Linked DNA regions of Homo sapiens: region 2 is reported to be linked to region 1. The links are microRNA targets in miRTarBase. Many come from high-throughput screens and were not tested one by one. Region 1 holds a microRNA gene; the other region holds the end of a gene's coding sequence.

Region 1 (4,403 bases):
CAGAGAAGGCTTGTCTAGTCCCACAAAGGCCATTTGTAGTTTATGTGTGCCCTTAGAGCTACTCCTCGAAGGAATATTATGCAGCTATAATATTATGCAGCTATGAAAAATAATGGTTGCTAGGACTGTGTAGCACGAAGAAAATGCTCATGGTATAACAGAAAGGATGCAGAATTATGTACTTATTATGATTACAACTCTAAAAACTCACAGATGAAGAAAATAAGTAGGGAATGTACAAGAATGATGATGGAATTGGGATGATGGAAGGGTCTGTGTTTTAACATTTTATAAAACAAAGGTTTAAAAAATAACAGCACCTTAAAAATTAATGACTGCTGAAGTAGGCCTGTGAGGACTCCCTACAGTACTCTAGGATCATATAGCCTTTGTGTTTACATTGAGGGTTTTTACAGGAAAGCCAAGGAGTCCTTCGGCCAAGGTCAAGGTTAACATAACTGATGATGTGAATCCTTTGTTTGAGGGTTCCTACCTTAGCTCACTCCCATCGTATTAGGAAGGGTGATGGGTACTTCTAGAATGCTTCACAATGGTCTGAAGTCTTTCTCTGCCTGATGGCCAGAGGTGGATATTATCTATGAAACTGTTTTGGAAAACCTGCAACCCAAACCATAGTTTTTGTGCCTAATAGGGCACATTGCAATAACTTTTGCATGAAATATCTTCCTTGCCTTTATAAAGGAATTTATTTCCCCAATTAAAAAACAATAACAACAATCTGCACCAAAATCAGCCAGTCTTTTGAGTTGAATCACTTCTCTCCATTCTCTCCCAAAACCTTAAAAAAATCCTCAGGGTACTGTCAGTAAACAATTGCTTATTACATCCCTATAACCCTACCCTGGTACACACACATGCCTTCAGTATAAAATGGATGTGTGTTCCTTCTGGGGAGTATTCACACTGCTTTCAGGAAGAGTTTGGGGAGAGACAGTAATTTTGTCTAAAATGCTCTGCTCACCACCGTCTCAGGTTGCCTGTTTTTAAAGGAGAATGGCTCATGGTCTTTGATGATGATTCTGGTACATTTCCACCTCAGGCTCTTAAAACTTAAGCATCACTTTTTGCCTGGGATCTCCCAGACATGCACCGTTGAATCTGCTGTTCACCTGGGGAGATGAGAATGTCAGTGAGCGCTGGTGCATGTGCTGACAGTATTGTTAATGGCGCCGTTTCCACATCTGCAGGCAGACTTGTGCTCCAAAGACAGTTATCGGAGTTGCTGCAAAAGTGACCACCCCCTGCAGCCGTAACCTTCAATACTGTGCCTAGTCTCGAGCTCAGTCAAACCTGGATGCCTTTTCTGCAGGCCTCTGTGTGATATGTTTGATATATTAGGTTGTTATTTAATCCAACTATATATCAAACATATTCCTACAGTGTCTTGCCCTGTCTCCGGGGGTTCCTAATAAAGTTTATAAGGCAACAGGAAAGAACACGTTAAAATCACAAGTAGATTTAGAAGATGGAGCACTCATTACAATTCATGTTATCTTCCATTTCTTCTTATAGCATTTGAGACCTGTATCAGTATTACTGGATTACTTGCTTATTATAGAAACAATAAGTGTTGATGTTTCATAAGAGCCTGGGGTATTCTGTGTGGCTTAGTTTTGTGCAGTGATGAATCCTTAAGGAATTCAATATGCTTGGTGGAAAAAACGGTTCCAACCCATGTCTGTGACACAGAATAAAGGTCAGGATTATAGCCTCAAACACATCTAGATTCATGTTTCATTTTGGTTCATTTTTATCCTGATCTTCAATTTAGAAGTTCATGTCAGGGTTTCAGCAAAAATTCAAGGAGCACAGATCAGTTTTCTATGACTTCCCTTTCCACTCACAGTAACAGAATGTATAAAGCAAATCCTCCATACCAGCTGCATGGATACTGAGTCAGTGAGCTTTGTACAAACCTTGGATATAGGACTAAATATATCTCATGAAGGTAATATAATGTTGACTGAACTCTTGAATTTCCTGTTATAGGTTAACTTGTCAGTGGAGGTTGGTAATATTTAGAATAAGCCAACAATCGGAAAGTAATATCATAGCCTAATTGACTGTGGCAGGAAGTTTGGGATTATGATATAGAAAACATTTTTTCTGGTACATAACAGCCTTCTTTGGTTGGTTTTGACCTCTTCCTTATAGAAAAGCCTGTGAAGTATGTGTGAGTTCATTCTGAGTTCTCTCAACAAACAAAATACTTTGTGAGCACTGCTTTCTGGAAAGAGAACTACTGTTCTCAATGTTTTGGAGGAGAAAAGGTGTAAGCAAATGGTTTAAACAGGTAGTCATGAAAGCTTCCCCTTACTGTGTCTAGAAGTCATTGCCACATTGCTTACAGGTGAATGCATAGTGACAGGGTCACCAACAGCAACATCAGAGAGGTGATGACACAGGAGAGGGTCCTGTAATGTTGGAGTCCTGGCTTCTGGAGTTACATAATGGATCCTGTCTCTGGAATCCTTCTCCATTGAGAAGCGATCTGTGTGTGTTGGCAGGTGCTCTGTCAGGCGGGTTTCAAGATGCTGCCCCAATCAGTCCCTCCTTCACACAGCTAGAGAACACCGGCTTTGGTTTTGAGTCCAGTTACATTGTTTGACTGAAATGGCAAATGGCCATGGAAAAGAGACAGCAAGTTATTACGAACAAAGAAAAACATGGTTTCAAAAGGACCTGCAGACGAAGCCCAGTTGTTTGAATTGATGTGATTTTCTTGTTTCTTTGGGTGACTTTGTCACTGACCAGCATGTTCTCTGTAGTGATTAATATGGTGAAGGGAAAAAGGAACCAACTGTTCAGGAAGGAGGAGGACAAATACAGCATTTTCTGTATGGCTGCACTTGGGCTTTGAGTGGCACTCATTGGTTCCAGACCAGGAGCATACAGGGTGTGAAAAGCAAGTATGGGGCCGGGCATGGTGGCTCACACCTGTAATCCCAGCAGTTTGGGAGGCCAAGGTGGGCGGATCATTTGAGGTCAGGAGTTCGAGACCAGCCTGACCAACAGCTGGGTTTCACCCAGTCTCTACTAAAAATACAATATATATATAAATATAAATATATATAAAAATATATTTTTATATATATTAAATATAATTATAATTATATATTATATAATATATTATATATTATAATATATATTATATATTATATTATAATATATATTATAATATATAATATATATAAATATATTATATATATATATATTTATATATATATATAATAAGTCAGGCATGGTGGTGCACGCCTGTAGTCCCAGCTACTCAGGAGGCTGAGAATCGATTGAACTTGGGAGGCGGAGGTTGCCGTGAGCCGGGATCGTGCCACTGCACTCCAGCCTGGGTGACAGAGTGAGACTCGGTCTCAAAAACATAAATAAATAAGAAAAGCAAGTATGGGAGACTCCCCTCCAGGGTAGACCAGTAGGTCCTTGTCAGATCCTTCACAGACACAGAAAGGGGGCTTAAGATGTAGGGAGTTTATCTGATACAGCTTGGGAAGAACCCTGTTATCTTTTGTCTGTGCTTTCTATATCGACATTCAAGGGCCCCTTAAACAGAAATAGTGATTAAAAGATTATTTCAGTGGCGTTGCTTTCCATTTTGAACACAAAAGTAAAGCAATGGATACTATGGGAAAACTACTCCCAAGATACTAATCATGCAGGTGCGGACCTTTTCCAGCAGACACTGCATGAACTCGCGCGTATTCCTCGGATGCGGAGGGTGTGGTCCCTCCCCAGTCACAGGCACAGCCATTTGGCAGTTTCTCTGCCACCCATTTTGCCTGTTTAAGGTCTCTCTGGAGCTTTCCCTGAGACAAGGCCAGCTGTCCATGCCTGGCTCTTAGCAGTTCCAGTTGTTCTGGGAGGTGTACCTTTTGTTTGAACTAATAAAGGTGGCAGTCCTGAAGCCACCCCATCCATGGGTCCTCCAGAGGAGAAGCTGATCTAACCTTTGCACAGTTTGGGGCTTTGCATACAGGCTAAGGCCTCCCTCAAGGCACCTCTCAGTTCAATACCAGAAGCAAACTAGTAGCAGCCAAACTTGCAACAACAAAAAAAAAAGAGAAATGTGGCTGCCTGCTCCACTCCGGCTTCCAACTGGCAGGAAAATGCCTCACTCCTGTTGTGGGAGTTCTAGACACTGGCCTCCTTTTTTCCCTCAAGGACATTTAAATTAAATGCAAAATGTTCACACTTTAAAAAATATATATCCAAGAGGGTTTTTTTAAAGTTTCTGATGCACTATGACCTTATTTTTAGTAGCAGGCATTCTGCAAGACTCTGAGTAACACAGAGCAAAGCCTGAGACCCCACTGGAAAGATGACACGGGTGGTTCTTCAGTTTGTGGAGCCAGTTGTGAGAAGGGCGA
Region 2 (4,403 bases), not on the chromosome of region 1:
GTTGCCATCAATATCACATTTAATCTATCAAGGCATTCTTTCTAAAAGAGCATTCTAAAAATAAGATAGAGTCATTTGTGGAGAATAATGGAGAGATTATAGTAAATTGCAGAAATGGCATGACTAGGAAAGGAAGAAAGTTGCAGGACAAAGAAAAAGATTTTCTCTTGATATAATAATTCTTTCACCATAATTTTCCCTTTGTTGTTCTTATAATGTGATTGATTAAATTACAGCAAATGTCTTTTTTTTTTTTGTTTTAACAGATAAAAGAATGATGGGTCAGAATTTCTACCACGTTTCTGGATACAGTGAAATAGCTAACCTCTGTTTCAAGAATGCAGTTATTAAGTCAAAGGAACAATGTGCAATTGATATGTTTTTAGATGAGAGAGAAAAATTAAAGCTAAAATTAGCTGCAAAGAAGTATTAATAATCACCTCTGCAAAAATTCTAAGTTGCCAACTGGCAAAGAAAGTCTAATGTTAAAAACAACTTTGCCTTTGAAACGTTAATAAATGGATTTACTTTGCTAAGATTTATGGCAAGTGTCAAAAATAGTATCTGAAGATACTGAATCATCATGAAATGAACTCTACTTCTGGCCAAAGCACAATGTATTTGCAGTTTTCTCTTTTGATTCAATTATACTGCACATGTTTTAAGGAAAAGTAACTTAATTGGGTTTTTCAGGCAGTTGATATTTGACCTAAGCTTTTTTTTTTTTTTTTTTTCCAGTTAATGCTAAGAAAAGATTTGGGGAAGGTTATAATAAAAGTATTTTGTGGTGACCATAAGAATGTCCCTCCCCAAACAAGTAAACTTGTGAAAGTTTAATTTGGAATTAGTGGAAGCTGTTCCTTTGAAAGCCAAGATATTATTTAAGTTGTAAAGCCAGCTAATAAAATGCCTTAGTTTGAGCATAATACAAACTGTGTTTTGTTCTTTAGACATTTATGAGATTCTCTGCCACTAACAGTAAATATGATTTAGGGGTTTTGTGGGATCTTTTTCACCTAAGAGTTTCCTAGCTCTGTCACATGAATTCTTTTTTATCCTAATGGCAGATCCAATTTCATCTCATTCATTTTTTTAACCATAACTTGCTTTTCCCATTCTCACTTTTAGAATTATACCTATGATGGCCCTTTCTTTATCTTGCTTACCTTATAGATTATAAGTCCCCTGTGAGTAAGTAAGAGTCATGTTTTTCTTTAAAGTTTCAACAACAAACCCCAAGGTTTATTTATTTAACAACAGGTATTCGTTGAGGTGCCTTCTGGGTGCAAGGAGCTTTAGAGTAGATTTTGACCTCAGCTGAACCTGGAACTCTGATCTGATAGACTGTTTATGATAAGCTTTTTTTTTTATTAGCAGCGTGATTTGTATATCGATGGCTTAACATATACAACAGCATTTCTTCTCCCTGCACCTTTTCGTGAACCTGACATTTTGAACATAAGCAATAACATCTGTATGGTAAAGTAGGCAGATTATACATGTGTTGCTTAGTGAATGATTACCAAGTGAACACACTTGGTATATTGCTTTACCAAAATACATGTGTAGTTGTCACTTCAGATTCACTGAGTTAAGAAAGTTTTATTTAAATATTAATATTAATCAAGAATTTAACAGATATATGTGACAGAAATCTAACTTCAAGTGACTGAAGCAGAAAGAAAAATTTTTGAATGACATAACTGAGAAAATTAGAGGTAGCTCTAGCTTTGATTCCATTTAGATCGAGCAGCTCACACAATGTTAGCAAGGACTCATCTCCACTCTGCCTTCCCTGGTGCTGGTTTTGCTCTCAAACTCTATATAGAACTCTCGGCCGGGCGCGGTGGCTCACACCTGTAATCAAAACACTTTGGGAGGCTGAGTCGGGAGGATAGCGTGAGCCCAGGAGTTTGAGACCAGCTAAGGCAATATAGTGAGACCATGTCTCTACAGAAAAAATTTAAAAACAGATCAGCTGGGTGTGGTGCCACATGCCTGTAGTCCCAGCTTCTCAGGAGGCTGGGGTGGGAAGATCACTTGAGCCCAGGAGGTCGAGGCTGCAGTGAGCCATGATCACATCACTGCAGTCCAGCCTGGGTGACAGAGCAAGACCTGTCACCCTGCCACCCATAAAAAACCTCTTCTGTAATGCCAGGTTCTTGACAAGATGTGATAATTCCACACTTACATCCTCAGATCTCCCATCCAGGGCAAGGACAGACTAAAAGAGCATATCTTCTCCAGAAGTCCTAGAAACATCTCATCATTGACTATGATTGAATTTTATTTATTAATACTTCCCTAGGATATCCTGTGTTTGAGTGTGAAGTTAATATCACACAAAGCATGTAGCTAACAGTTGTGTGAGGGTTGGAAATTCAGGGTGCTGTTAGGAAGGGGAAATGGATTGGGGTTTAAGGTAGGGGGAGTAAAAACAAGAAACCATCCACTCTGTATATTATATAAGACTGTGATCGAATTAAGAATTTTAGTTTACAGTTTAGCATAAACAAATAGTAGTAGAAATGAATGCATTTATTCATTCCTTCCTTCTCCAATAGTGTTTAAGTACAATCTTTTTATTTGCATTTTATTGATGATTGATTGTGGTTGAAAGGAGTGGTGATATTATTTCGAGGATCCACTGTGTAAGAAGACTGTTGGCAGTGGAAGGCTCGAGTTGATTAAGTGACAAAGAGGTAAAGCAGACATGCCCAAGCTTGGTTATGCTCTGATTTCCTACCCTGTTACTTTCATCCATAATTTATAGTACATCCATTTTGTGTCATTTTGCTTCAGGTATTTCTTGTCCTGACTGTCTTCTTTTTTATGATTTTACTGTTTCTTCACACTAATGGCTTTGTCCTCTGACTTTGACTCTTTGTGAGATTCTTCTGAGCAGTTAACCTCTAGGATAATGTGGCTTGAACACATTACAGAACTATGTTTTGACTTGTTAGTATTATTCACACATTCATGACAATTGAGCCTCTCTACTGTGAGAAATGTTTTAGAGGCCAGTTTCTAGGCATAGCTGTTTTTCTCCCATGAGTATGCAAATCAATAGTTTTAACCATTGTTAAAATGCAATCATAGTGACTTCAGAAAATTTGGAAAATACAGAAAATATAGGGAAGAATAAAATTAACCCACAGTTCTGTCACCTAAAGGTAACTGCTGCCAATGTTTTCATGTATTTCTTTTCTGTCTCTCCAATGCATTTTTTTACATAGTTGTGAGCGTTAGCCAAGTTATTTTCATGTTGTTATGTAATCAATATTTTTCAATAGAAGTATTAGAGGTTTTTTTTATTGATATAAAAATAACAATTACAGATCCTGATATATAGAAGTTATTCAAAATTATACAGTTTTCAAAAAATCAAGACAAGTAGGCCCAATACAAACTACTGAATCATCTTCTAATTTCCCTCTAAAATATTTATAGAAATATGTAAGTAGAAAAACATTCATCCTTTCCTCGTCTAATTATGATCCTGCCATATTCCAGGCACAAGAGAAAGCTCTGGGGCTTGAGTCTTAATAGGGCTGATAGTCCAACCAGGGGACAGGGTATCATAAAGAGATAATTCAAAACTTTAAGATTGGAGGGTAGGTGATGGTAGAAAATTCTGCGGCAAACATTTGTTGATGCTCATCATTTGTTGATGTCATCAAAGATCACCAGGGCATAATTATAATCAAAATTAGTTTTATTGATGCTTGCTGCAGCAAGAGAGACTGCACACCACTGGGGTCTATGGGTGCTTCTCAGTGGGAAGGTGTAAGGAGGGGCTTGCTAAGAATTTGAGCACATGTAGCTAATTTTAAGGAGGGCTCAAGTGAGCAAGGGTTTCTTCTGGATTGAGTGCTGTCAGAAAGTGGATTGAGTGCTGTCAGAAAGTGGGAGTGATTTTGCAACTGGGTATCTTAATTTTTATGTTGTGGGTGGGAGGAAAGGAAAGAAGCAACAGTCACCCATGTTAGCCACAAGAAGAGGTTGGCTGTTTATGGTTTGCACAGTGACTTTGTTTTTATCTGTGCTCAGGCATGATTACAGTATCTCATTTTATCCGGATTACAGTGACCTCATCTGATGTTAGAGATTTGAGAATTGTTAAATGTTCAGCAGGAGAACGCCACCGCCTAGTGTGAATGCTAGGTCAGAAGCTGCTTTTTCACACTGAAACCATTTAAGTATGTACAAATAAGTTAATAGTGTAAATGTAGGTGTAAAATACAATGCAAAACAAAATAATGAAGTAAGTGAATTAAATTATTGCACCAAATATGGGGATATGAAATAGGGAAAGAAAAGCATTAAGTTACTTATAGTCCATAAAGGGACTACATTATTTTGTTACTCTGATAATCCCATAAAACAAAGTTTTAAGAATGTTT

The links. The annotated mature microRNA hsa-miR-190a-5p reads UGAUAUGUUUGAUAUAUUAGGU and lies in region 1 at 1,340-1,361, shown strand. An mRNA with a match to its seed (bases 2 to 7 or 8) in the 3' UTR can be bound and repressed. Matches are read on the target gene's strand: a 7mer-m8 pairs with bases 2 to 8, a 7mer-A1 pairs with bases 2 to 7 and ends in A, and an 8mer does both.
Region 2: miRTarBase lists HBS1L as a target of hsa-miR-190a-5p. The part of its 3' UTR that is shown has no 7-base or 8-base seed match.

Annotation. Positions count from the first base shown.
Region 1 is chr15:62,822,632-62,827,034 of GRCh38, forward strand. It overlaps MIR190A (microRNA 190a), which reads left to right and starts at 1,326; the gene lies at 1,326-1,410. All of the region lies in intron 54 of TLN2 (talin 2), which reads left to right.
Region 2 is chr6:134,961,154-134,965,556 of GRCh38, reverse strand. It overlaps HBS1L (HBS1 like translational GTPase), which reads left to right. Exons shown (of 18, transcript NM_006620.4): 18 at 267-4,403. The coding sequence ends at 278. Among named protein-coding and RNA genes, the nearest start is that of ALDH8A1, 13 kb to the right of the region's middle.